Linked DNA regions of Homo sapiens. The protein of the gene in region 7 interacts with the protein of the main gene of each other region in a pairwise test. Each region holds a gene or a part of one and is shown on either strand. Other genes may lie near its edges.

What was found.
Region 1: the proteins of SMAD9 (region 7) and DIAPH3 interact in a two-hybrid assay, tested with the Homo sapiens proteins (one large-scale study listed by BioGRID and IntAct).
Region 2: the proteins of SMAD9 (region 7) and MTMR10 interact in a two-hybrid assay, tested with the Homo sapiens proteins (one large-scale study listed by BioGRID and IntAct).
Region 3: the proteins of SMAD9 (region 7) and ASB2 interact in a two-hybrid assay, tested with the Homo sapiens proteins (one large-scale study listed by BioGRID and IntAct).
Region 4: the proteins of SMAD9 (region 7) and ZEB2 interact in a two-hybrid assay, tested with the Homo sapiens proteins (one large-scale study listed by BioGRID and IntAct).
Region 5: the proteins of SMAD9 (region 7) and TRIP12 interact in a two-hybrid assay, tested with the Homo sapiens proteins (one large-scale study listed by BioGRID and IntAct).
Region 6: the proteins of SMAD9 (region 7) and PPP2R5E interact in a two-hybrid assay, tested with the Homo sapiens proteins (one large-scale study listed by BioGRID and IntAct).

What each region holds. Positions count from the first base shown.
Region 1 is NC_000013.11:59,968,429-59,971,928, reverse strand, and holds part of DIAPH3 (protein diaphanous homolog 3), read left to right. Parts: intron 1-768; coding exon 769-1,077; intron 1,078-1,870; coding exon 1,871-1,985; intron 1,986-3,500. UniProt on the Homo sapiens protein: Actin nucleation and elongation factor required for the assembly of F-actin structures, such as actin cables and stress fibers. Required for cytokinesis, stress fiber formation and transcriptional activation of the serum response factor.
Region 2 is NC_000015.10:30,988,829-30,993,051, reverse strand, and holds the start of MTMR10 (myotubularin-related protein 10), read left to right. Parts: upstream 1-1,423; 5' UTR 1,424-1,545; coding exon 1,546-1,605; intron 1,606-2,214; coding exon 2,215-2,275; intron 2,276-4,223.
Region 3 is NC_000014.9:93,970,071-93,973,570, forward strand, and holds part of ASB2 (ankyrin repeat and SOCS box protein 2), read right to left. Parts: intron 1-3,500. UniProt on the Homo sapiens protein: Substrate-recognition component of a SCF-like ECS (Elongin-Cullin-SOCS-box protein) E3 ubiquitin-protein ligase complex which mediates the ubiquitination and subsequent proteasomal degradation of target proteins.
Region 4 is NC_000002.12:144,426,120-144,429,619, reverse strand, and holds part of ZEB2 (zinc finger E-box-binding homeobox 2), read left to right. Parts: intron 1-3,500. UniProt on the Homo sapiens protein: Transcriptional inhibitor that binds to DNA sequence 5'-CACCT-3' in different promoters. Represses transcription of E-cadherin. Represses expression of MEOX2.
Region 5 is NC_000002.12:229,912,010-229,915,509, reverse strand, and holds part of TRIP12 (E3 ubiquitin-protein ligase TRIP12), read left to right. Parts: intron 1-3,500. UniProt on the Homo sapiens protein: E3 ubiquitin-protein ligase involved in ubiquitin fusion degradation (UFD) pathway and regulation of DNA repair.
Region 6 is NC_000014.9:63,382,878-63,386,377, reverse strand, and holds part of PPP2R5E (serine/threonine-protein phosphatase 2A 56 kDa regulatory subunit epsilon isoform), read left to right. Parts: intron 1-1,806; coding exon 1,807-1,934; intron 1,935-3,500. UniProt on the Homo sapiens protein: The B regulatory subunit might modulate substrate selectivity and catalytic activity, and might also direct the localization of the catalytic enzyme to a particular subcellular compartment.
Region 7 is NC_000013.11:36,850,739-36,854,238, reverse strand, and holds part of SMAD9 (mothers against decapentaplegic homolog 9), read left to right. Parts: intron 1-563; coding exon 564-820; intron 821-1,721; coding exon of another isoform or gene 1,722-1,901; exon of another isoform or gene 1,902-3,500. UniProt on the Homo sapiens protein: Transcriptional modulator activated by BMP (bone morphogenetic proteins) type 1 receptor kinase. SMAD9 is a receptor-regulated SMAD (R-SMAD).

The DNA.
Region 1 (3,500 bases), about 23 Mb from region 7:
AGGCTTTCCCAAGGAAGGGACCTGTTAGCTCAGACTGAAGAGGCTAGTAGGAGATGGTCAGGTGAAGAGAATGTTCCAGGCAGAGGGACCAGCATGTACAAGGGCCCTGAAATTAGCATGAGGTTGGCACATACACAGAATTAGAAGAAAGTCCCCTACAAGACCAGATAGCAGGGACTAGATCATGATATACTTATATAGGTCCTACGAAGAATTTTAGTTTGTTGTTGTTGTTGTTTTCTCAAGTGCATTAGGACACCATTGAGAAGATTTGAGCAAAGTCATGATGTGGCAATACCATTTAAGTTCTTTTGTTGAAATCTTATTTCTTACTTATCACTTAAATGCTTGCACTCCATAGAACTCTGTGCATAGACCCTTTGTCATGCTACATATTCTCTCCATACTATGAGTGAACTTCTCTGCTTCCCTGGCTTCAACTGTTCTCCAGAGACTACTGATTTTCAAATCTTCTAGATCCACATACCCATTTCCCTCCTGGACATTTCTACCTAGATGGTCATAACTACCTCAAAACAGGGAATTATACTTCTGGCAATTATGTTTTTATGAGGGAAAAAAAGCTATAATTATATTCTTAAATTAGAAGAAAAATTGTTGGAATTTTGATTTTTGGTTAAACCTTATGAAATTACTGATATGTAATTATTTTTGGTTTAAATGAATGCCTTATTTTTGAGTAAAGTGCATATTTACATGTTTTGTAGATATGTTCTTAGTTATGTCTCTTATTGTTTTTTTCTCCAGTTTGGTGCCTTGCCAGCTGATTGTAATATTCCTTTGCCTCCCTCTAAAGAAGGTGGAACTGGCCACTCAGCACTTCCTCCTCCGCCTCCACTGCCTTCTGGTGGAGGGGTGCCGCCTCCACCTCCTCCCCCACCACCTCCTCCACTTCCAGGAATGCGGATGCCATTCAGTGGTCCTGTGCCTCCACCACCTCCCCTGGGATTCCTTGGAGGACAAAATTCTCCTCCTCTACCAATCCTGCCATTTGGGTTGAAACCAAAGAAAGAATTTAAACCTGAAATCAGCATGAGAAGATTGAATTGGTTAAAGGTAAAAGAAATTAATAGAGGAAAATACTTTTACTTAGATCTAAATCTAATTTTGGATTTATATATACATAATTTCTAATGAGATTTAATTTATGCCTACATAATTTAATTTATATATACATAATTTCTAATGTCACTAATCAAAGTGACAATAAAATAGCTTTTTTTTTAAAGTATTGGGACAAATCCCTTTCATATTGACTAAGACTTTCTGCTTTATAAATACAGTGAGAGTTGATGTTGTTCCAGTGGAATCCGATTTGTAATTAAATTGATAATTAAACATTATTGCAGTGAATCCTATGTTTATGAAGTGTTTCTCAAAAAAAAATGATGGTGTTCTTAGGAAATTTTCTCTATTGATAGATGTTGGGAAAGTGTTAACTAGTTGTCAGAAGCTAATATCTAGTCAGATCTTAAGAATTCAGAATCCTGCAGAAAAATGGTTTCATGGTAACAGAAACATGGAAAATGCTGTATAATGTGTCCTGCCCACCAAAATGTATAGTGCAGGTGAAGATTATTAGAGACTATGAGAAATGCAATTGAGAAGAAGCTAATTAAATCGTATTTCAAATCCTCAACTATTGGATCATGGAAGCCTTTTCTTCCTAATAAGACCTTAACATCCTGCAGAACTTGTATCTTATTGAACACACTTCAGGGAAAAATCTTACAGATACGACTTTATAAATATCTGCTGACAGCTATGATACTCAGTGTATGCATAGTGCTTGACTTGGGACAGGTGAAACACTCACCTATTGATGAATCAGTCTTCTCTCTGATTGTAGATCAGACCTCATGAAATGACTGAAAACTGTTTCTGGATAAAAGTAAATGAAAATAAGTATGAAAACGTGGATTTGCTTTGTAAACTTGAGAATACATTTTGTTGCCAACAAAAAGGTAAGTTTAACATCTTGATTATTTATTAATTTGATTTTAGAATTTTAACATATACTTTTTATGTATCAATTTTCAGAAAACATTATTTTATGAATCCTGTACATGTTATTTTTACATTCCTAATGGGCAAATAAATGGTATAATGAAATAAAGTGCTTAAAAAGTAAATTCTGTTTTAAAAATGCAAAAGGTTAATATAAAATTTTGATTATTAAATTTTCTATATGATATTATTTTTGAAGATATTCCATTGGGATAAATTAGACTTTTGTAAAAGAGGATATTTTCTGTGACAGTTTTGGCATGAGAAGGTCCTTCAGTTTGAAAAATAGAAAAACAAAATGTGTGCTTTCTTGTAGTTAGAATTTTACTACCCTTTAATATTACAGTGACTAGGGGAGCTAGGAGAGGGATAGCATATAGCATTAGGAGAAATACCCAACGTAGATGACGGGTTGATGGGTGCAGCAAACCACCATGGCATGTGTATACCTATGTAACAAACCTGCATGTTCTGCACATGTATCCCAGAACTTAAAGTATAATCCAAAAAAAATTACAGTGACTATCACATAATTTAATTAATTGCTATGAGTCACATGGGATAAAAATATCAGATTTATAATGTCTTCAAAGTTAGCTTGAAAGAGAAGTATCTGAGTAGGTTATATGATCTTTTCATTAAAAGCAATGGCATTCATTTTCCAAAATGTTTTGTGATAGGTTTTACCTGTGCAGTGTGATTTTTAAAAAATTGTTTAGGTATTACATAAGTGAAAATTGAACTTATTTCATCCAATTTCGTGGGCCTGCTACTTACATTTCAAGGCTGATATCCACACAGAATTTTTAAGTATTATATAAAACTTACATTTTAGGTCTGTAGTGCAAAACACTTAGATCAATCATTACCTTTTAATTTTCAAAAAGAAATTTTTCACTATAGACTTATGCCACCTATATCCCTGGGCTCATAGAACAAAGGAAGAGGTGGCAGGGAGAGATTGTACTGGATGGATACAGGTCAGAGACCTTTGTGTAGAGGGTTGAGTTGACTTCCTAAATGTTGACTGTTAGCCAGGCACCATGCTAGATGCTTTATGTATCTGTTTAACTTGAGCACAGCAGCCAAAGAATGCTGGCAGATATTTTAAAAATGTATTAGTATTCCTTTGAATGAGTTTCTGAAAGATTAGAATCTCTTTCTAAAAGGTAATTGTAAATTAAGAAATTATTAATGTAAATTAGAAACTCTCTCCAAAAGGTAATTGTAAATTAAGGTAGTTTTCTAGAATTTGATAAAAACAGTTAACAGATATTTTTGAGTACCATTTATCCTGACTAAAGTATTAAAAATGGTATATTTTTGGTCTTTGAACACAGGGAGAATTTTCTCAGCAAGCTCACCCTAGTAAATTTGTGAATAAGATTTTAATTTTACCTTTTGATTATGGAGGATCAAAATTTTCTTCAAATAAGATTAGTGTACTCTTCTGGCAATCAAGGAAAATACAT
Region 2 (4,223 bases), on a different chromosome or scaffold from region 7:
AATACAACCAGATATCTGGGAAATGCCATAAAATTTAGTGTTAAGACAATAATAAATCTGGAAATAGAGTTTTTCCACTTTTCAGTTGTATGGTCACATATTAGAATTGCAGATCCTAAGAAAACCTGTACAGAAAAACCCAAATCACAGAGTCATTTAAGTGTAAAGAAAAAGCCAATTATTGCTTAAAGAGTATTTGTAGAAAATATCCGTTGAATATAGAGGAATAACAGCATATTCATAAAAATTTTTTAAAAAGTGTGCACGACAGTGATTTTAACACTTCTAATCCAATGGAACTAACATTTTAAAGTACAATTATGGCCAGGCACGGTGCCTCATGCCCATAGTCCCGGCTACTTGAGAGGCTAAGGCACGTGGATCACTTGAGCCCAGGAGGTGGAGGCAGCAGTGAGCCCTGATCATGCCACTGCACTTCAGCCCAGGTGATGGTGTGAGACCCTGACTCTAAAAAATACAATTATGGTTACGGTTCTTGGGCAGAGTGGAATTCAAACAGGTTAACCTGAAAGATCAGTAGGGTTCTAAATCCAGGATAAATTATTTTCAGAAAAAGAATAACTTTTTGAATCTTTATTTAAATTGTTAAATGTTCCTGTGAGTAACACTCATCAGCGTGATTGTGACTGGTATGGCTGCATGGAAGCTTCCCTGTGGCATTAATCATAAAATGCTGGATTGGGGTTTGATTCTTCAAGGTATAAGAAGGACCTAGTCTCAAGTAATAGATTCACCAAAATGTAACACCACTAGCCCCCTCCCACCAAAATCTGCTCCAGTCAGAATTACCGTAAGAGCTCAGAAGTGACCTGTGCTTGGCGGCACCGGCCCACTTTCCCAGTGCCGGTTCCTCGCATCCTGGGCGCAGACGGGGTGACCGCCTGACCCCTGGACCCGAGTCACCTTTCCCTGCCCTGAGCTCCTCCTTGAGAGCTTCAAAACAATGCTCGCCCAGGCCGGAGGGCGAAGTCGGCCCATGTGTAAGTCAAGGGAACTGTCCCAGGACTGCAGCCCGGCCAGAAGACGCCCCGCGCCGCCGTCCCAGGCAGCCACCGCTGCCGCCGTGGCCCCCGCAGGCCGCCGTAGGCCCCCGCGGGCCGCCTGACCCCTGCGGGCCGCCGTAGAAGGACCCTCCAGAGGCCGCGCTCTTGAGATGGCCGTCGGGCTCCGCTCCCCGCGGCGCCCCGGCTGAGGGCCCGCCAGCGGGCACCTGGCGCCACCGCTGCGTTCCGGCACTAGCACGGGACACGGTCAGGGAGCGGCGGGCCGCGGCCTTGCGCGCGCCGTCTCTCGGGGCGGGGCACCGGGCCCCTTCCGGGGATGGGCCCCGGCGCCCGCGTCGGCCTGGCTGTGCCCGGCCCCTCCCCGCTCGGGCGGGCGCTGCGCCGTATCCCCGCCCGTCAGTCCGCCCGGCTCGGCTGGCCGCAGAAAGGGCCTGGGCGGCCGCACTGAGAGCTTTACGCCCGGAGGCGTCGGCGCTGCCACTGGCCCGCGACGGGAACGGGGCGAAAAGGCGGCGGCACCATGTTCTCCCTCAAGCCGCCCAAACCCACCTTCAGGTCCTACCTCCTGCCACCGCCCCAGGTAAACAACCCCTCCCCGCGAGCGCCCGACTCTCCTCTGCGCTTCCGTGGAGCCTCCAGGCCGACCCCCGGGAACTGGAGGACCCCAGGAGGCTGCGCGCGTCTCCCTGCCCACAGCAGCGCGGCTGCCTGATTCCCGGCGCCGCGAAATGCGCCTTCTCGGGAGCCCCCACTGGCTCGGCGAAAACTTGTAAAACTCTTCTGCAGCCATTCTCTGCCCGAAGTTCTGTCGTCCGTAGTTTTGCGGAGTGTTGAGGCCCAGGGGAGCCTTGGGAGCTGGGGTTTTCTTTAGTTTCCAACCCATCGACCCTCCCTCGTATGACCGCCAGCATGATTGCAGCGCTTGGGGTCACTGGTCGAGGCGGTTACCCGTCTGTCATAAATGTGAACACCTGGAAGCGACACTGGCAGTTTAAACATTTTTTATTATTAGGCTTCCAAGTCGATAATGAGCAGATCTTAAAAACAGCTCAGTTAATATGCGAAAGAATTTAAATGGGGGGCTGTGTGTCTTTCGCATGTGTCATCACTTAGAAAACAACATTTGCTGTAGCATTTTACGGAGGGTGGGGGGATTGAGATTTTGATTTATTTTGCTAATGTATTTCAGACTGACGATAAGATCAATTCGGAACCGAAGATTAAAAAACTGGAGCCAGTCCTTTTGCCAGGTAAACATTAGTTAGGATTCTAACAGATACTTTAGCAACGTATTTTGGTTTAAGATTATTCTGCCGACTAGTATCATGTGGTTAACTTCCCTTCTCTCATTAAACTTTCTCCAGTTAAAAGTCTAGTGACTGAGAGGAGAAAAAGGAACTGTCAAGAATGTCATTACCTCATTTCCTTTTTTGTCTCCCGAATTTCTTTTTGAAAAGATGTATATGTTTAATTGCTTGGGTAGTAAAAGTACTCTTTGCTGACGTGTTTGCCACTTATTGCATTAATGATTAATCATTTTAATGCATTTTGATAGTATAAAAAGACGCCTTTATTATGTGTGTGTCTCTATACCAATAACAGAGCTTAGTGAACTTTGAATTACTTGCTTGGCAATTGTTTTTTGAAGTTGTCAGCTGTATTTGCAAATTTGCTTGTTTCAGTTTAGAACCAGGCTTTTCCCAGCAGAGACACTTAATTGACATTTGGGGCCAGATAATTCATAGTTGGACGGGCAGGCTGTCCTGTGTATAGCAACAAAGATGGCCTCCACCCACTAGATGCCAGTAGTAGTACCCTTATCCCCCACCACCTAGTTGCGACCTAGTTGCCACACCAAAATGCCACCAGTCATTGCCAATTTTTTTTTGTCCCCTACCTCTGGGGGACAAAAATCTCACAGTTGAGAATCACTGCTTTAGAACAAAATTTGCTATAGGTGACCTTAGAGATGGAAGTAGGGATTGGTGGTAGAAAGGGGTTTGTTTTAGAGCATACAGAATATTGGTATGGTATTTTGAATTGTATAACAATTGTATAATAATTAGGAAAAGTCAGTTGTTTAATGCGATTATTAGGGGAAGTAGCCAGATACTTAGGAAAGCCTGTTTTAAACCTGAAATCGGCCGGGCACGGTGGCTCATGCCTGTAATCCCAGCACTTTGGGAGGCCGAGGCGGGTGGATCACGTGGTCAAGAGACCGAGACCATCCTGGCTAACACGGTGAAACCCCATCTCTACTAAAAATACAAAAAAAAATTAGCCAGGCATGGTGGCGGGCGCCTGTAGTCCCAGCTACTCGGGAGGCTGAGGCAGGAGAATGGCATGAACTCGGGAGGCGGAGCTTGCAGTGAGCCGAGATCCTGCCACTGCAGTCCAGCCTGGGCGGCAGAGTGAGACACCGTCTCAAAAAAAAAAAAAACCTGAAATCAAATACTAGTTTGTGTGGCTACTATCAGCATTGCAAAATCTGACTCATTACTTAAAGCCAAATCGGTAAAATAATTAGAATTTTGTAGGTAAAAATTGAACAAATGTGGAAACTTTAAAATTTTAAATATTATATAGGGACAAAATATTAAAAACACCAAACTTTGGTTCCATATGAAAGTTTAAAAAGTGTTTTTTAAACTTTACTATGGGAGTCATAAATATTTTCCCTTGATTTTGTTAGTGCTTTTCACTCAACAGTGTGTACTAATTAATCATTTGTACTTTTCCTCAGAGTGAACAGTAGAATTACTAAGTAACCCTTGCTCCCTGTGTGCTCTGTTTTAGTCTTAGTCACTCTGAGCATTTAAAATGCAGGGACGAGGAAACAGTACTCATCTTGAATGAGTGCCTATGAGCTATTGAACTTTGACTTCGTTTACTCTGAACAGGCCTGGTTCTTAGGCTTTGATTCCTCCACTCTGCATACTATGATTTCACACTCAGAAACAACATGGTCTTAGCTGTAAATGTCAGTGCTTGCTTTTTAATTTTTTAAAATTTTTTTTAAATTTTTTTTTTTTTTTTTTTGAGACAGAGTCTCACTCTTACTTGGGCTGGAGTGCAGTGGCGTGATCTCGGCTCACTGCAACCTCTGCCTCCCAGGTTCAAGCGATTCTCCTGCCTCTGTCTCCCAAGTAGCTGGGATTACAGGAGCCCACCACCACACCTGGCTAATTTTTCGTATTT
Region 3 (3,500 bases), on a different chromosome or scaffold from region 7:
TACCAACCCAGGTTTGCAGACAGCCAGGGTCTGCCCGGGAACTGGCGGTGGATGGGGTGGGTCTATGTGGTTGTTTGAGGGGCTGGGGTGGGAGGTGGTCACTCTCCAGATGTCTTAGCAGAAAACTGGGGGCTAGAGGAGACACAGCTGGGAAGGCGGGGCCAAGAAGGAGGCTGGCAGCCATCCTCCACCACACCAAGCTCCACCAGAGGCTTGGGTCATGCCAGGGACTTGGGTCGGACATGTGAGGCTGCACAAGCCACTTAGCATCCTTGGCTGTGTTTGTGGATGGAGCTGCTCGTCAGCCTACCCTGCCCTGAAGGTGCCCTTCCAGAAACAGCTCCAGCATCTCCTCTACCAGGAAGCCTCCCTGATGGCTGAGAGTCCTCTGCTGCCTCCAAGGGCCCCCTTCACATTCTACTGCTTGGACTGCCTGCTATGGTCCTGTCTCTCTAGAAAGTCTAGAAACTTCTGAGGAGCAGGACTATGTCGCACTCATGTTGTAACCCCAGGAACTAACCCAAAGTCAGGTACACAATAGGTATTGAATAAATGCTGGACAGACGGGTGAATGAACGATAGGATCATGACAGTGCTTCAAGCCCTTGGAAGCACAGCTGTTATGGAGAAGTTTACTGCACAGTGGTAGACGGTGGCACGGCCCGAGTGCCCCACTGCCTATACTCAACCCTAGCTCTGCCACCTCCTGGCCACGTGATGTGAAGCAGGTTACTCGGTGCCTCACTTTGCTCATCTATAAAATGAAGATATTAATGGCATCCTGCCTGTGGAGGTGTTGTCAGGTGAAATTAGGTGACAGGTATAAATGTGGAGCACCTGGCACACAGCCGGTGGCCCCTAAAAATCTGCTCGTGTTATTCCACAGGTCCCAAGATGCTGCGATTCTCTGCCGTGATCCCAGAAAGTGGGTGAAACAGCCTAAACCTGTTCCTGCTGGGAGGATGCTACCTGAAACTCGTGCCCAGCTGGCGGTTCTCTAGGAGGCTCCATCCAAGGGATTTGAATTCCCACAAGCTCTCCTCCATTTAACAAGATTGAGAGTGAAAGTGAAAATGAGCCCCAAGCCCAGCCTTCGCGTGACAGCTGTGGTCAAAACTGCCGCTGTGACTGTCAGCTCCCCGGGCTGTGCGCAGAGCCTGCCGGGTGGTCCCAAGGGTCAATCATGGGGCTGGAGCTTGGGGAGGAAGGGGATCTCCACGCCCTCCCCCGAAGCCAGCTTGGGTGCAGGATGGATTCTGCACACTCCTTTCAAATTCCCCACTCTCCAGGAACCCTCCTGTCCCCCTGCCCTCTCTGCTCACATCATCTGCTGCCCTAGACTTTGGAGGCTTGAATTTCTGCACGAGGTGACTGCCAACAAATGACAAGAGCAGCCATTTAGTGAGCACGTAATTCATTTAATGGTGCTGAACACAGAGCAAGTGCTGCATGAGTATTTTGGTTAGGGTTCACTTGTACCTTTTAGGTTTAGCTCTTATGCAAAGCCTGTGGTTCAGATCCATGTGTCACCCTCAGGTCACTACGTCCCACTGCAGCAGGTATGGGGAGAATCATAACCATAACACCTTCCCTTGCAGTGAATTTCTCTCTCATATTTGTCTTTAGTTTGAACCACATAATAAATCTATAAGCGTATTATAGTTCCTATTCTATAGATGAGGAGACTGAGGCACACTAAGGGAAAAAGTGACAAGGAAGAGACTAGAGGCTACATCTGATTTTACACCAAGTATTCATCCCACACAATGAATAGCAACCACCGGATGTTTTTCAAGATTTGAGTGAAGGCCAGAATCAAACTGAAGACTATGTGTGTGTGTGTATGTGTGTTCATATTCAAAAACACTACATACACGCTACATGTATTATATATATTATATAATATACACACATAATAACATATAACATATAAGTATATAATAGGTAATTATATATTTTTATATTAATAATATAATATATATTATATATATAATATACACACATATACATACTTTCTATAAATCTACTCCAAAAGCTTCAAGGTCTCCCAAATATCACATGACCCGTAGCTAAGGCAATCCTGAAACCTGGCTGCTTGGGCTAGCCTGGGGACACACGAGGAGTCAGGAACTGGGCTGTTCCTTGGCACCCAGGGCGCTCGACCTCCTTCCTTGCAATGCTCTCTCCTTCTGCCAAAACTTATCTTTCTGATCTGCCTTTCCCCCCAGGATCCAGGGTGGTCCTAGGAAACCCAAGGAAACGCTTCCAGCTGGAGTGCTCGGAGGTGTAGGACATTGTTCTCTTCCCTTCCCGGGTCCTGTTGTTTTAGAACCTAATCAATAAAAATTAAGCTGGTGCCTGTGGGTCCTTGTCCTGTCTCCATCCAGGCCACTTTCATAGGTTGCCTCATTTTACTTTTTCAGTACTAGGGAGAAGAGTGGTCTTCCCATGGCGCGGATGAGGAGACTAAGGCCTGGAATGTATGTGGTACAGAGGTTGAGACCACGTCAGCCTGCGCCGTCTTCATCAGGCCCTCTGACACAACATTAAGGGCATGGCAAGGAGTCAGTTGCTCCGTGACCCTAAACCTCATCCCTCTGGAGGCTTCATCTCTGCTCTGGCTAAGAAATGCTCTGACCTTGGTAAGGAAGGGGGGATGGAATCCCAGCCACCTTGCCCTTGACCCCTATGAGTGGCCAAGTCGTAGCCAGGGTGGGCCTTTGGCCATGGGGGCAGTGCTCTCAAGCCTCTGGCTGCCCTGGGGCCTGGTGTCTAGGGCCTCACAGCTGCTAGGAGTTTGAGCCTTTGCTCAGACCCACACCATCAGCTAAGGAAAGCACCCACAAAGGCCAAGCTTCCAGTTTACCCCCAGCCACCACCACCACCGGCTGCGTCATCTCAGACCTTTTGATGCTGATTTCAAGCTCCCGGCTTTCGGGTGCCAGGGCCTTGGGGCTTCCAAGGCTGGGCTGGGGCTGCTGGAGGTGACTCAAGAGGTGTGCTCAGGGCTGCAGGCCCCAGCTGACTCCACAAGACAGGGCTCTTCTCTTTGTATGGAGTAGGGGTGTGACTGCCCCTACATAACCCTGTAGGAGGTGACAACCAGGGATTTGAACCTGTCCAAAGCTGGCTCTGCTCCCACGCCAGCAGACACTCTGTGCCCATTGTATAGAGGAGGAGACTGAGGCTGCATCTGAAATGGAGCGCCTCTTGCTGATCCAAATCTTGGTGAATCTCTCCCGAAGAGTCTAAGACCCTAACGAAAAGTCTTGGTAATTTATTTACTTATTGATGTACATTGAGGATGCCACTCCAAAAAGAGAGCAAGAATGATGGTGAGAGGAAGAGAGGGAAGAAGGAAAAACACAGGAAAAACCTCCCTGTAGAAGGTTTTTTGAATGTGGAAAGTGCCCTGTTGCAATGATGAGCATCCATTCTGCACAGGACATGCCCACTACCTGCGGCAGTGCCCACACCACCAGCTAAGAAAAGCACCCACA
Region 4 (3,500 bases), on a different chromosome or scaffold from region 7:
GATTATGAAGTGATAGTAATGTTATCACATTGCGGCAGTTACATCTTAGGAAGGGATTATATTTCAGTTTTGATGCAAGTCAAACATGAACCACACTTTCAACACATAACATGAGGTATTTGCACCACATTTACAATGTGCAAATTATGTAACATGATCAAGATCTATACTTTCATGATAGGAAATGGAAGCAAATGTAAAAACTCACAACATATATATGTATATAAAAATATTTTGTGTGGAAATTATGTAGCATTTCAAACCAAATAACTGTCAGTTTAATGTAGCTTCAGTGTCTGTCTGACACCTCCTATTGGAATTCAATCGTTTAATGATTCCCTTTTGTTAAGTGTGAATGTGATTTCACACTTTTACCTGGTCAGGTAGCTTTCTTATTATTTATCAGCTAAGTACTTGATAATGATTCCTGCTGTTTGGTGGGACTCTCAAGGGAAGTAAAAATGGTCCCAGGCCAACTATAATAAAACTAAGGTAAATTATATTCAAACTAAAACTTCCGACAACACTGTGCAAACGGGAAATGTCTTGGTCTAAAATTCACTTATGACGGAGAATCGCTAAGGTATGAAATGTTTAACAAAATACAAGAAATCTTATTCCTGTGAACTTTCTCTGCTCATCTTTACATGGTAAAGTGGCCTGGAAAATTTGTTTAAATGACCTCTCTAATTCAGACCTCATGTCACCTTCATCTCTATTCCCAGGACCCACTGAGAGTTATCATTGTTTACCCCACCTTGTTTTTTCTTTGACAACATAAGCAACAAAAGCATTTTTATAAATAGGTGAAGTGGCTGGGAAGGAGTCTACCTATATGCTGTTGTGATGTCGCAGACTATAAACCATCAAACATAGGCAGAATAATTGTTTGGTATACTGGAAGGAGGATAATAAAAGCACTTCCACTACGAAAGAAAATTAAATGTGAGATGAAAGAAAAAGAAAAAAGACTGATGGCAATTTGAGTACAGTGTATTTGTTTTTCGTTTTCCTAACATACTGTGCCAAGTTTTCTACTCTTTCCGTTTCCAATTTTGCTTTCGGTGAAGGTTTCTCGAATCTCAGCAATCCCACACATAAACATTTATCGTTATATCCATTAAGCCTTAAGGTTTTAGATTTTCAACTATGAGGGAGAACTCAGCCAAAGATGCTTGAAAGATAAATACGTTTAATTAGGGGCAGAGGATGATCATTAAAGGAAGTCTGACTGCTGCAGAAGTCATTAACAATCTTAAATGAAATTTTTATTTTTATGATAGCCATTTACATGTATAATAAGAGCCAATGATTCTTGGGAGCAGTGTGACAGAAACAGAGTGTGGCGAGAACTCATGTAAGACATACTATTTAAATGAGCTGGTGTTAGCTATTCATATTTGTTAATGAACTAGATATGCAGGGCTATAAGAATGAATGTTCTGATGCTTTAAATTTTAATATCTAGAAATCAAGGGTAAGGACCAATTACTAGAATTTCCACCCTTAGAAGAATAATTAATAACAATGTAACAAATGTACAGCCCCAAACCTCTTTTAAAAAAGTTTAATTTAAAAAATTTAATATCAATAGTTGAAAAACAGCCAAACAGCAATGTCAAGCTGTAGTAGTTTGTGATTGTGGCAGCTTTTTGTGTTGGTCATGGATCATAATTCTAAACGTTTTAATATACAGTAATCCATATGAATGCATTGCAGACCCTGTTATCACCTGTAGTTAATGGTGCCTGTGATACAAGTGAACAGGCTGTTCTTTGCTCTTACCTTTATGGTAAATAAACCAGCATTCTGGAGTCACAATAATTAAATAAAATGTAAATCCCTAATCTCATTTGGCTATTTGGACCAAGAAACTTACCCGGCTATTACCTGTCTAGTTCTAATGATTACTAATGATTTATTGTTCTTTTTTTTTATTGTTCTAAAAGTGCTCTGATGTGGTGCCTTGATGTCTAATGAAAAGAAATTGGTCTTAAAAAGCTACTCATTGTTTATCCTGACTCTGAGATAACACATTTTTCTTCTGATAAAATATTTTTCTTATTTATTGTTCAAAACACACAATATAGACAATAACTCTAATTCTGGTGCAGTTTTATTTAGTAGTGTTTTATCCCCGGTGCCTGGCTGTCTACAGTCATACCTCAGCACATAGCTTTACTCTGAGATAAGCCCTCTCTCCTTTGCTCTTTCTCCCATGCTTTCTGGAGTTTGTCTGCAGGATGCAGGTTTTGAACTGAAGAGCGCAGTGGAGTTCTTACTGTGCCTTTCCGGTTCCAGCACAATCAAAGTTTTGTGTTTGGAATTGTCCTTGACATTCTTTCGTCCCACAATGGGGTGGACACAGTGTGCTGGAAACCATGACATCATTATCATTGACACAGACTTAAATAAATCACCTGCATCTTGGCCTCTTTCTGCTTATTCAAGGATTCTTCATCTTAAGGAAGAAAGTGCTCTTTATTTTTACAAATCTTCATCCCAGGGGTGACTGGAAGACGCAAACTTTTACAAGTGTTTTAAAAATAAATATACTATGTGGTTTTAGACACAGTATGCTGAGTCAGAGGTGTCTTAGAGAATGTTTAAGGTTAGACATAAGGCAGAAAGACAGCCAGATTGCCTTTAATTCGGAGGCAATATTCCTAAACTGTGTATCATTATGTCCTTCTGAATATGGATTCACTTGAAACTTAATTAAATAGGCATATACATAACATTTCAAATACATACCTGAAAAGGCTTAGTAGTGTTTCATTTTCACACATTGAGCTTGATATTCAAAAAAGAAAAAGATTGATGCTCAGTGAATCAAAGCAAAGTACTTTCTAGGTAAAAGTGACACCATCTCATCCAATGTCTCTGAAAGATCTCAGTTGCACAGTCTTTGGATAAAAAGGGTTATAACTAAATAATACTACAAAATGCAATTTACACAATGTGCTGACTACACATTTGTATACCCAGCATTTATTAATTTGGGAAGCAACCAACTACTGTAACTTCTCTTTACTTTTTCATAAGAAAATGACAATGAGGAAGGAAGTGCAGCAGAAATCTTGAACATTACCACTATTATGCAAAAAAAAAAAAAATGCTGTTAACTGTTTTCCCCTCAGTGACTTGATGTGCTCTCAGATGGAAAACTTATGATTCTTGTGACTCTTGGCTACCCGAAATCACATGAGATGAGCAAGGAAGAAAGACACAAAAGCTATATTTATATCTAGCCCTGAACTTCTCAGAAATACCTTAATATGATTCCTTGCAGAGACTGATAAAAATATCAGATGAGGGAGACTTTCAAATGATCAATGATTACAATTGACAATACAATATTGCTATATATTAAACTTCTAAATGTTTAATGTAAAATGTCTCTCTGAAAATATTTTTTAAATAAAGGAAAATTCCTTGCTCAGGAATGAATTTAAGTGGTTGTACAGCTTAAACAAATATCATTCAAATTATCTGATTAT
Region 5 (3,500 bases), on a different chromosome or scaffold from region 7:
AAATAAGATACTGTAAGTGGAAATATTTTGTAATGGCTTAATGTCCTATTTTTAAAATTTTGATTCTTATTTTGCATCGTTAATGCTAAAATGACTTTGAGACTTTTAGTCAGTATATATTTTGGAGACTGCAAGTTACTTTAAATCATACATTTTAAAAAGAATTAGGGCAAGCCATTTTGTTACTCTTTAATTGACCATTATGTGCATGTAATAGTTGATAAAGTACATTGAGGACCTAAATAAGTTTTTTTTTTGAGATTGAGTTTCGCTGTGTTGTCCAGATTGGAGTGCAGTGGCGCAATCTTGGCTCACTTGTAACCTCTGCCTCCCGGGTTCAAGCAATCCTCCTGCCTCAGCCTCCCGAGTAGCCGGGATACAGGTGCCTGCCACCACACCCAGCTAATTTTTTGTATTTTTAGTAGAGACAGGTTTCACTCTGTTGGCCAGGCTGGTCTTGAACTCCTGACCTCACGTGATACACCCGCCTTGGTCTCCCAAAGTGCTGGTATTACAAGAATGAACCACTGTGCCTGGCCAATATGTTTTAATGCAGTGCTAAATGATTAGTGTTTCCAATTTATAATAGTATACATCATTGTAGTTTATTCTGTTTGTTTCTTTTTAGAGAGCATGTACATATTTCTATAAATATGGTGTTATTACCCATACATGGATTTTTGAAGGCTATTTATAAGCCTAAGTGTCCATCAACAAGCCTTCAAGACTTGAAGTTACAGCATTTCAGTGTGTATTTTAATCAACTTGTTGGCTGTCATAACCAATGAGTTCTACCCTGACTTCAAAACTCCTACTCACTCTAGCCGTGGGCAGTGCTCTGAATAAATAGATGTACCTTGTGCTGTGTTCTTAAGGTCAGATGAACTTAATTTAAAGATTTTATACTGGTAAACATGTGCGATGCCCTGGAAACCTAAAGTGAGTTTTCACAGTAGCCCATCTCTTGAAATTCTCTCTTCAGTTGTAATTTAAGCTACTTTGTGTCCTTAGAGAGCAGGTTCATAGAGATCATATGAATGTCCCCTACTTTTTTTGATTCTCAAAAACCAAGTGCTTCTAGTAGCCTTGTAAATAGGAAATATATGCAAATGCTGTCAACTTCTCAGACCCCAGTGTTTCGTAATTCTGTTTTACATCCTTGGCTGCAATCAGATTGAACTGTTTCTTCCTCTCTGAACACACCCAGCAACTTTTTAGCATTTTTGCTTTGGTTTTTTGTCTACTTGAATTGACACCCCCTCTCACATCTTGTATCTATTATTTTTATTATTATTTTTATTTTTTGAGGCAGAGTTTTGCTTTGCCGCCCAGGCTGGAGTGCAGTGGTGCGATCCCGACTCACTGCAGCCTCCACCTCCACCTCCTTGGTTCAAGCGATTCCCTGCCTCAGCCTCCTGAGTAGCTGGGATTGTAGACTGGTCTCCAACTCCTGACCTCAGGCAATCCACCCACCTCGGCTTCCCAAAGTGCTGGGATTACAAGTGTGAGCCACCGCGCCTGGCCTGTATCTCTTAGAAATATATATACTTACACTTAACTTTCTTCCAGTGACTCCTTTAAAATTTTTACTCCTTACTCTCCTATTCTCCTTCTGTAACATATTTCAGGATGACTTTCACGTTCTGTCTTACATAATTAGTTGTTTACATTTTAACTTAACTGGGTTTTTGGCCTCTTCAAGGTAGAGATCTCATTCTTTTATCTTCACAGTGTCTAGCACAAGGCTTCCAACATAATGCATTGTACATGGTAGGTGTACGTGGTAGTGTGTTCTGGTGTGACACATTGAGAAACGATGTTGTGAAATAATATTAGCATCGTTTGCCATAATTTACTTGCTTGTTTTCATTTTTCAGGGGTTGGCAGCTGAGTGTAGAATATAAATTTTTCAAAATTAGGCTCATTAAAATCAGCTACTTAAGGAATTGTTAAGACCCTAGAATATTTTAGTTAGTTGGTTACCCCAAATTTAGCATTTGGAGATGATGTTTATTAGTAGATGATGATTTATTTATCAATACATATTTATCAAGTGCTTACTGTGTGCCACAATTGTGCTTGACAGAATATAAAAGGGACCTGAAACTTATTCCTTGTCTTCCAAGTTCTGTTATGTTTCATATAGTTGATATTTATCTTATTCCATCACAGCTTATTTGTCTAAAACTGTATATAGGAGTATAGTATTTAGCATAGAGAAATATTCTGTAAAATTCTAAATGTAGATTTTCTGCATTTAGAAAATCTGATATTAGAATGTAAATTAAGAAACATGAATTAGGGCATGATTTGTGGCTATACTAAATAAATTGTTGAAGCATCTTCATTTACAAATATTCAGCCAGGTGCTGTGGCTCATGCCTGTAATTCCAACCCCTAGGGAGGCTGAGGCAGGAGGATGATTTGAGCCCAGGAGTTCAGGACCAACCTAGGCAACACAGCAAGACATCATCTCTACTAAAAATAAAAAATTAGCCTGATGTGGTGGTGCATGCCTGTAGCCCCAGCTACTTGGGAGGATTGCTTGAACCCAGGAAGTTGAGGCTGCAGTGCGTCATGCCACTGCACTCCAGTCTAGGCCACAGAGTGAGACTCTGTCTCAAAAAACAAAAACAAATACTCATCAGCAGCTAATGTGAGTGCATATCTGGTTCCATACAAGATCTGCCCTCTTAGAGGGTGCTGAAAAAGAAGAGATTTATAAAAGGAGATTCCTTATCTTGAAATGTACTTTGTTGTAGATGAGTTGAAACTTACGACTACAGCACACAACATCTAACATTGTGCATATTTGTTATTAAGTACAAGATCGAGTTTTATACAGTGGGTACTTGGAAGTTTAGAGAGGTTCAGTTCTGGGTTGAAGTTACTTAGGAAGACTATGAAGAGAGAGGGGCTTAAACTGGCCCTGATTGTTTGGAGGAAGATATAGAAGAATGGGGAGCTTAAAGGTGTAATTGTGGTGAGGATCTAATATTAAGGTAAATGGGCTCTCTGGAGTAGAGGGTCCATATATATGAAATAACAGGAAATTGGGCTGAGATTATTGAAGTTCTTAAATGGGAGATCACGGAATTAGATTTAACAGATTATGTTGAATGATTGTTGATCCCTGAATAGGTGATGTGAAAAAGGTGTACAAAAATATTTATGAATGAACTGAAAACAAAAATAAAAGTGCTTTTAGATGTCATTTTTTATGACAGTGCTTCCCTTTCTGATACTACATATAAAAGTTTTTGTATTAAGTTTTGGAGGAGATAGAAGTAGTGAAGGTAAAACTTCTTGTTTTTTCCTGTTGTTTAAAATGTTAAATAAGCAGAAGCTGGTTTATTGTCTAAATGACCCACACCAGTCCTCTGTTGGACACAGAAGTCTTCCTTTAGTGGAAGCTATCAGTCATTTTGTCTCAGCACATTCAACTGTTGTTTGTTCAGATTTTTTGTAATTCAAAATACTTTTTGATACCTAATGCATGA
Region 6 (3,500 bases), on a different chromosome or scaffold from region 7:
AGTCTCAGATTCTTCATCCACAAAATAGAAAAGTAATGGTACCAACTCTGTTGGTTGTGAGGAAATGAGATATTATATATGTGGGACACTTAGCACAGTGCCTGGCATATAGTGAACATGCAGTAATGATTGTTTTCTTTGTACTCTCAGGGTCTGGTGCCTAATGAGTCTCAGGGTTTTGTTTTGTTTTTTGAACCAAGCTGAATAATGTAAATGGAAAAATTCTGTTTTCTCAGTGTCTTTCGGTAGATACATCTTATACCATTTTGTTCTCTTCTAAAACAGGGCTTCTTAATCTGTATAAATGAAGGAAGCCACCCCTTTTTCCCTTTTCCCCTGTAACTACCCTTTTTAGAGATTTTAGGTTTTGTTTTTGAGATGTTCTTTTGAATTCATGAAATCCAAGATGAGCCAATCAGGCCCAGCAGACCAAATTAGAGCCAGTTGATAGCATGGTGGGCAGAGAAAAGGGATCTAAGAGAGCAGAGAGGGTAGGTGCAGCCAGTGTCCCTGAGACCAGAAACTGAGCAGACATCTCCTGGCTTGCACAGGAAGGGACCAGAAACAAACTCTGGAAGAAGCCCTAGAAATGAGGCCCCAGTCTTTACCATATTGTCAGTGTAACCTTGCCTACATTACTCAGTCTCCCTGAGTCTCTGTGTCCTCACCTGTAAAATGAGCACAATGGTATCTCCTTCTGGGATGGTGGTAAGGATGATACATTCTACTTGCTGTGTAGGCACAGTGCCTGCCCATAGGAGGTACTTAGTAAATATTGGCCGCTCTACAGGGATGAGCAACTGTGGGTGTTCCTCAGTAGCTGTGACTGAATGCTAACCATATGCTGGGCCCTGGGTTCGATCTAAGTGTGTGTGATGAAAAACATAAGAAAGGGGACCAGTGAGATGTGCTAAAGTGATGTCAGGAAAGTGTGGAATCAGATGACATGGGCAGAATTAGAGAAGAATATAAATTAACAGGAAAACTTCTTTTCCTTCCCTGAGTCGATGAACCACTTGAACCACTCTGGACTTTTTTTTTGGTGGGAGGAGAAGACACGGTCTTGCTCTGTCACCCAAGCTGGAGTTCAGTGGCATGATCTCCACTCACTGCAACCTCCGCCTCCCAGGCTCAAGCAGTCCTCCCACCTCAGCCTCCCAAGTAGGTGGGACTATAGGCACATGCCACCAATCCCGGCTAATTTTTGTGTTTTTGTAGAGGCGAGGTCTCCCCATGTTGCCCAGGCTGGTCTCAGACTCTTGGGCTCAAGTGATCTGCCTGCCTTGGCCTCCCAAAGTGCTGGGATTACAGGTGTGAGCCACCGTGCCTGGCCCACTTTGGAATTTTCCAAGAGATTAAAAATCCACAAACATTTAAAATGTGGGCCAGGCACGGTGGTTCACGCCTGTAATCCCAACACTTTTGGGAGGCTGAGGTGGGCGGATCACGAGGTCAGGAGATCGAGACCATCCTGGCCAATGTGGTGAAACCCCGCCTCTACTAAAAATACAAACATTAGCTAGGCATAGTGGCATGTGCCTGTAATCCCAGTTACTCGGGAGGCTGAGGCAGGAGAATCGCTTGAACCCGAGAGGCGGAGGTTGCAGAGAGCCGAGATCGCGCCACTAGCGAGACTCCCATCTCAAAAAATATATATATATTAAAATGTGATTAATATTTAATTTTACCTCTAATTGAATGATTTACAAATAGCCTTTTGAAATACTTTTGTTTGGAAAGATTTATAATTTTGTTTTATCTTTGTCTTTTTCTCTCTCTTAACATTTTATTTTTCTTTTCCCAAAGGTGGCAGAAAGAGCACTCTATTATTGGAATAATGAATACATCATGAGTTTGATAGAAGAAAACTCTAACGTCATCCTTCCCATCATGTTTTCCAGCCTTTATAGGATTTCAAAAGAACATTGGAATCCGTAGGTTTTCAGTTTCTTTCCTCCGTTCTCTTCCTCCCTTCCTCTCTTTCTTTCCCTTCAGCCTTATTATGTGCCAGATGCTGTCCTTGTTGCTGAAGACGTATGTGAAAAGATAAAATCCTTACCTTCTGGGGATTCACTGACTGGAGAAAATAAACAGATACTTTAACAAAATACCGGTTAAAGTATCTGTTTACTAGACAGGCTTCTTGATCTGTCTATGAAGGTAGCAGATCTTTTGGGGAGGCACTGCAGCTGAGAGGAGAGGTGTGTAGATACTGACAGCATGGCCATGCTTAGACTGAATCTGAAAGGAATTTGGCAGGTGGATGGCATGGGGAGAGCCCTTTCAGACAGTGGGTCCATCCATCATGTTAAAAGGCACAAAGATGTAAAAAGCAGCTGTCAGTTTCTGAGACCTGTGAGTTTGGGAGGGCTGAGGCACAAGGTCTTTTGGGGAGGGTGCTAGAGGATGTGGCTAGAAAAGACTGTGGGACTCGTGTGAGCCTTCACCAAGTAGATGATGAGGAAGTACTGAAGGGTTGTTAAGTGGGGAAGTGGTCTGACTAGGTTTTCATTTTAGTGTGATCTATTTAACAGCCAACTCAGTCGCTATATGTATCTCTTGGAAAGGAAGGAGTTTAAAATCATCAAGGGAAGTTTAACATCCAGCCCTATGAAAGTTAAAGCATTCTGAATTTGAATGCCTTTACATTTTTCTCTGTGGAATAGAAGGAAAATTTAATGTGGTATTTAAAAATTGGGAGATACAATTCAGTATATTCATAATATGTTTATCTTTAAAAATTTTGCATGTAATTATAAAATATCACATTTCTAATTTTTCAAATTTGCCTAATTATATTAATAGAACTTGTAAAAATAAGGAGCTGATAAACAGTTAAGTCCCTTTATACAGATAGTCTCTTGAGGACCTAGAGAACGGTTCTAGCAAGTGTCTGTAACTACTCAGTATACTACATTTGGTGCTTTCCCATCACTGCCCTTGGGAGGAAGGTCATTCTGGAACCTTAACAGAAAAGAACTTAAATTTTCCTTTTAATGGCACAAGGCAGAAGCTACACAGCAAGTGTACTTTCTTGTAAATGTTTTGGAAACATCAGACTCATGGTTTATTTAATATATGGCTAATTTTTACCAATGCATTTTTCAGTGGTATTAGGAGCATGTTTGTTGCAAAACGGAAGCAACGGATATTTTTGCAAAAGGAAAAGCTATTTAGACTCTAGTCTGAAGCTATCAAGCCCATCATAACCTTGTCCTCACATTGCCCAAGAGCTAATTCTTGTTAAGTATGGGCTACCATTTTGGCTGTTTAGCTGTATAGTGTCCCATAGCTAATAGCAACCATCCCAGCTTGCCAGTTATCAGCATATATTTTGGGTCAGCAGGACTGGTGCAGATCAGAGCTAGACAGATAATTCATATTGAACCACCCAACCTACATGAGGGCTTGATTTCATTTCTTTGGATAAGAATAATTTATATATATACACATATATATATAACATTTGTTTCTAGGGAAGTAGCTTCTGATTTTGATGA
Region 7 (3,500 bases):
ACTGACTGGTTCTTGGGAGTGATTGTTAACATGGGTTGCAATCCACTTTTATTTTTTTATTTTTATTTATTTATTTTTTTGAGATGACATCTTGCTCTGTCACCCAGGCTGGAGTTCAGTGGCGCTACCTTGGCTCACTGCAACCTCTGCCTCCCAGGTTCAAGCAATTCTCCTGCCTGAGCCTCCCGAGTAGCTGGGATTACAGGTGCCCACCACCATGCCTGGTTAATTTTTGTATTTTTAGTAGAGAAGGGGTTTCACTGTGTTGGCCAGGCTAGTCTTGAACTCCCGACCTCAAATGATCTGCCCACGTCGGGCTTCCAAAGTGCTGGGATTACAGGCGTGAGCCACCGCACCCAGCTGCGATCCACTTTTAAATGGATTTGTGGAAAAAGCACAGATTATCATTAAACTAAGCGGCATTTAGGTCACACATCTCATTCATCTGATCAGTGATCTGACAACCTGATGGGAGAGTCACATCTCCTAGGGTTTCAGGAATCAGTGGGAGAGGCACGCTATGAAAGGGCATGTGAAGGAAGGCTGTGTTTTTGTGTCTGCAGGTGTGCACTTGTACTACGTCGGGGGAGAGGTGTATGCCGAGTGCGTGAGTGACAGCAGCATCTTTGTGCAGAGCCGGAACTGCAACTATCAACACGGCTTCCACCCAGCTACCGTCTGCAAGATCCCCAGCGGCTGCAGCCTCAAGGTCTTCAACAACCAGCTCTTCGCTCAGCTCCTGGCCCAGTCAGTTCACCACGGCTTTGAAGTCGTGTATGAACTGACCAAGATGTGTACTATCCGGATGAGTTTTGTTAAGGTAAGGAGTGCTTGCTATCACGTTATAAAATGTTCAGTGAAAAACAAAACAAAAAAGCACCCTGACTGATGTGGCAGGCAGTTGTGCGGTCAATTCTGATAGACAAAACCAATTTATTATTATTATTATTTTTTGAGACGGAGTTTCACTCTGTCACACAGGCTGGAGTGCAGTGGCATGATCTTGGCTCACTGCAACCTCTGCCTCCCGGGTTCAAGCGATTTTCCTACCTCAGCCTCCCGGGTAGCTGGGACTACAGGCACGCACCACCACGCTTGGCTGATTTCTGTATTTTTAGTAGAGACAGGGTTTCACCATATTGGCCAGAGTGGTCTTGAACTCCTGACCTTGTGATCCTCCCATCTTGGCCTCCCAAAGTGCTGGGATTACAGGCGTGAGCCACCGCGCCCAGCCCAAAACCAATTTTTTTGAATTCTATTGTTTTTAGGAGGAGTTCCTCTTTGAGTATAAACTGTCTTGTTTAGCAATTATATGAAAATTGTTACACATTACTTTTGAGGAAAAACAAGGTGGCTATTTGATTGTTTTTAATGCAGATGATAAAGTAACAACAGTAATTTTACAGGACTAGTGCAACAGAGATTTTTTCCATCCTTCCAATTGCCAAGCACTGTTATCACTCAGTGAATGTTGGTGAATTTATCTGAATTCAGTAAGATACTCTCCTTACTCTTAGAAAGCATACAGGCACATGGAGGAGATAATATTTATGAATAAGCTACAAAAATAGGCAGGGTTGGTTCTAATACAAGATAATAAACTAAGTAGTGTTATAAAGGTATAAACAATTTGGAATAGAAACGGGTGTGATTAATTCAGAGAGCAGTATATGTTCTGTTGATGAATATTTGTTGAATTTCTCATATCGAATCTTATTAAGGTTGCTATGAAGGCTGGAGAACCAAGGAAGTTTCTTAGTGGGAAGGAAAGACAACTGGGTTTGTATATGGAAGTGAAAGCCTTCAGTTTCATCACCTGCTATTTTGTCTGTTGCAAAGTACTCGCAAATGAGTCTAGTATTTCAAAATATGGGCTTATCAAAGTATCGGGGTATGTGTGACAGTTTTCTTACTGCCATGATTCCATCCAGGGAATCAGCATGGCTTGTTCCAGGCATTTTTTTCAAAGTAAATTTTATTAGCACTTTAAAATTACCATGACAAATAATTTTTCTATACTCAAATTATGTTTTTATTATCACTTTAGTAATTATTTAAAAAGTAAGAACAATATAGTTTCCAATTTTAAAAAACAGCTGCTTGAAATTATTTCTCTTTCATGGTGACAAAGCAGTTTCATTCAAATTTAGTGTTTTGAAAGCATATATTATAAAGTTATATTAACAAATAACTTCGAAATCTTTTCAAATGTTCTGTTGCTTTAGAAACGGCAGAGGGCATCATTTGAATCATACAGTTTTTTTTTTTTCCGGGTCTGTGTTTTTAAAATTAGGATGAAATGCCAATATCTCATAGGTAATTATTTCACTCTGATTAAATATAAGCTTATATAGAAATCTGATTTTCCTAATAACTAGATACATTTCTCAGATAGGCAGCATTTACATTCATAAAGCTACACAATTGACACAGAAGACAAACTGTTCCTAATACTGCAGGAACTTTTAAAATAAATACATAGTAAATATAACTATAGATCATTTTTTTTTAACATTTGAGATGAGCAGCTGTAGCTACCACTGGGCTGATGGATCAGATCTCTTTAAGGTTTCTTTCAGCTCTGATTTTTACTGATTCTAGGACTTAGTCAGTCAACAAATGTTTATTGAGCACCTGCCATGTGCAGGCCAGGCACGTGGGACATGCCAATGTTTACTCACAGATCTCTGACCTCAGGGAACCAATATTCTAGGAAGGAGAGATGGATAATAAACAACAGCCAAAACACAGAAGAAGGATGGAAAGAGAAAGTCTGGGGGCAGGGTGAAGGGAATTGGAGCACGGGGGCAGTGGAGTCATCTGCACATGAGGGTGGGCCTCATTGAAAAGGTGACAGGTCAGCAGAGACTGGAAGGAGACATGGAGCTAGGCCCAGGGACCCCTGGAGGAAGAGCAGAAGAAGAGGGAAGAGCAAGGCAACAGCATACACCTGGAAACTCTGAAGAGCAGGCAGGCCAGTGTGGCTGGGGCCTAATGAGCAGGGGAAGTGAGATGAGAGCAGCCGCAGGGAACCATAGCAAGGCCTCCTGAACCTCTGCTACGAGTTCAGCGGTGACTGTAAGGAGGTGGCGAGCTTTTGCAGGGATCAGAGCAGAGCATTTTCATGATCTAACTTCTATTCTTAAAGGATCGCCCTGCCTGCTGTGTGGAGGATAGATATTATACAGGCAAGGTTGCAAGTAGGGAAACCACTTAGGAGGCTATAGTAATAGTCAGGTGAGAGTCGCCCCCACCTGGAGGGATCCAGTACAGCTGTGAGAAGTGGAAGGATTCTGAATTGTGAAGGCGGATCAGGCGTGGGAGAAAAAGAGGAAGATGAAGTTAGTTGCCTTCAATCAAGATGGAGAAGACGCAGGTGTAATTGAGATGTCCGTTGCATTCAAGTGGAGTTGCTGAGTAGCCAGTTCGATATAAGAGTCTGGATTCGGGGAGAGAGGTTTGGGCTTGAAATACAAATTTGGGAATTGTCTGCAAAGGGA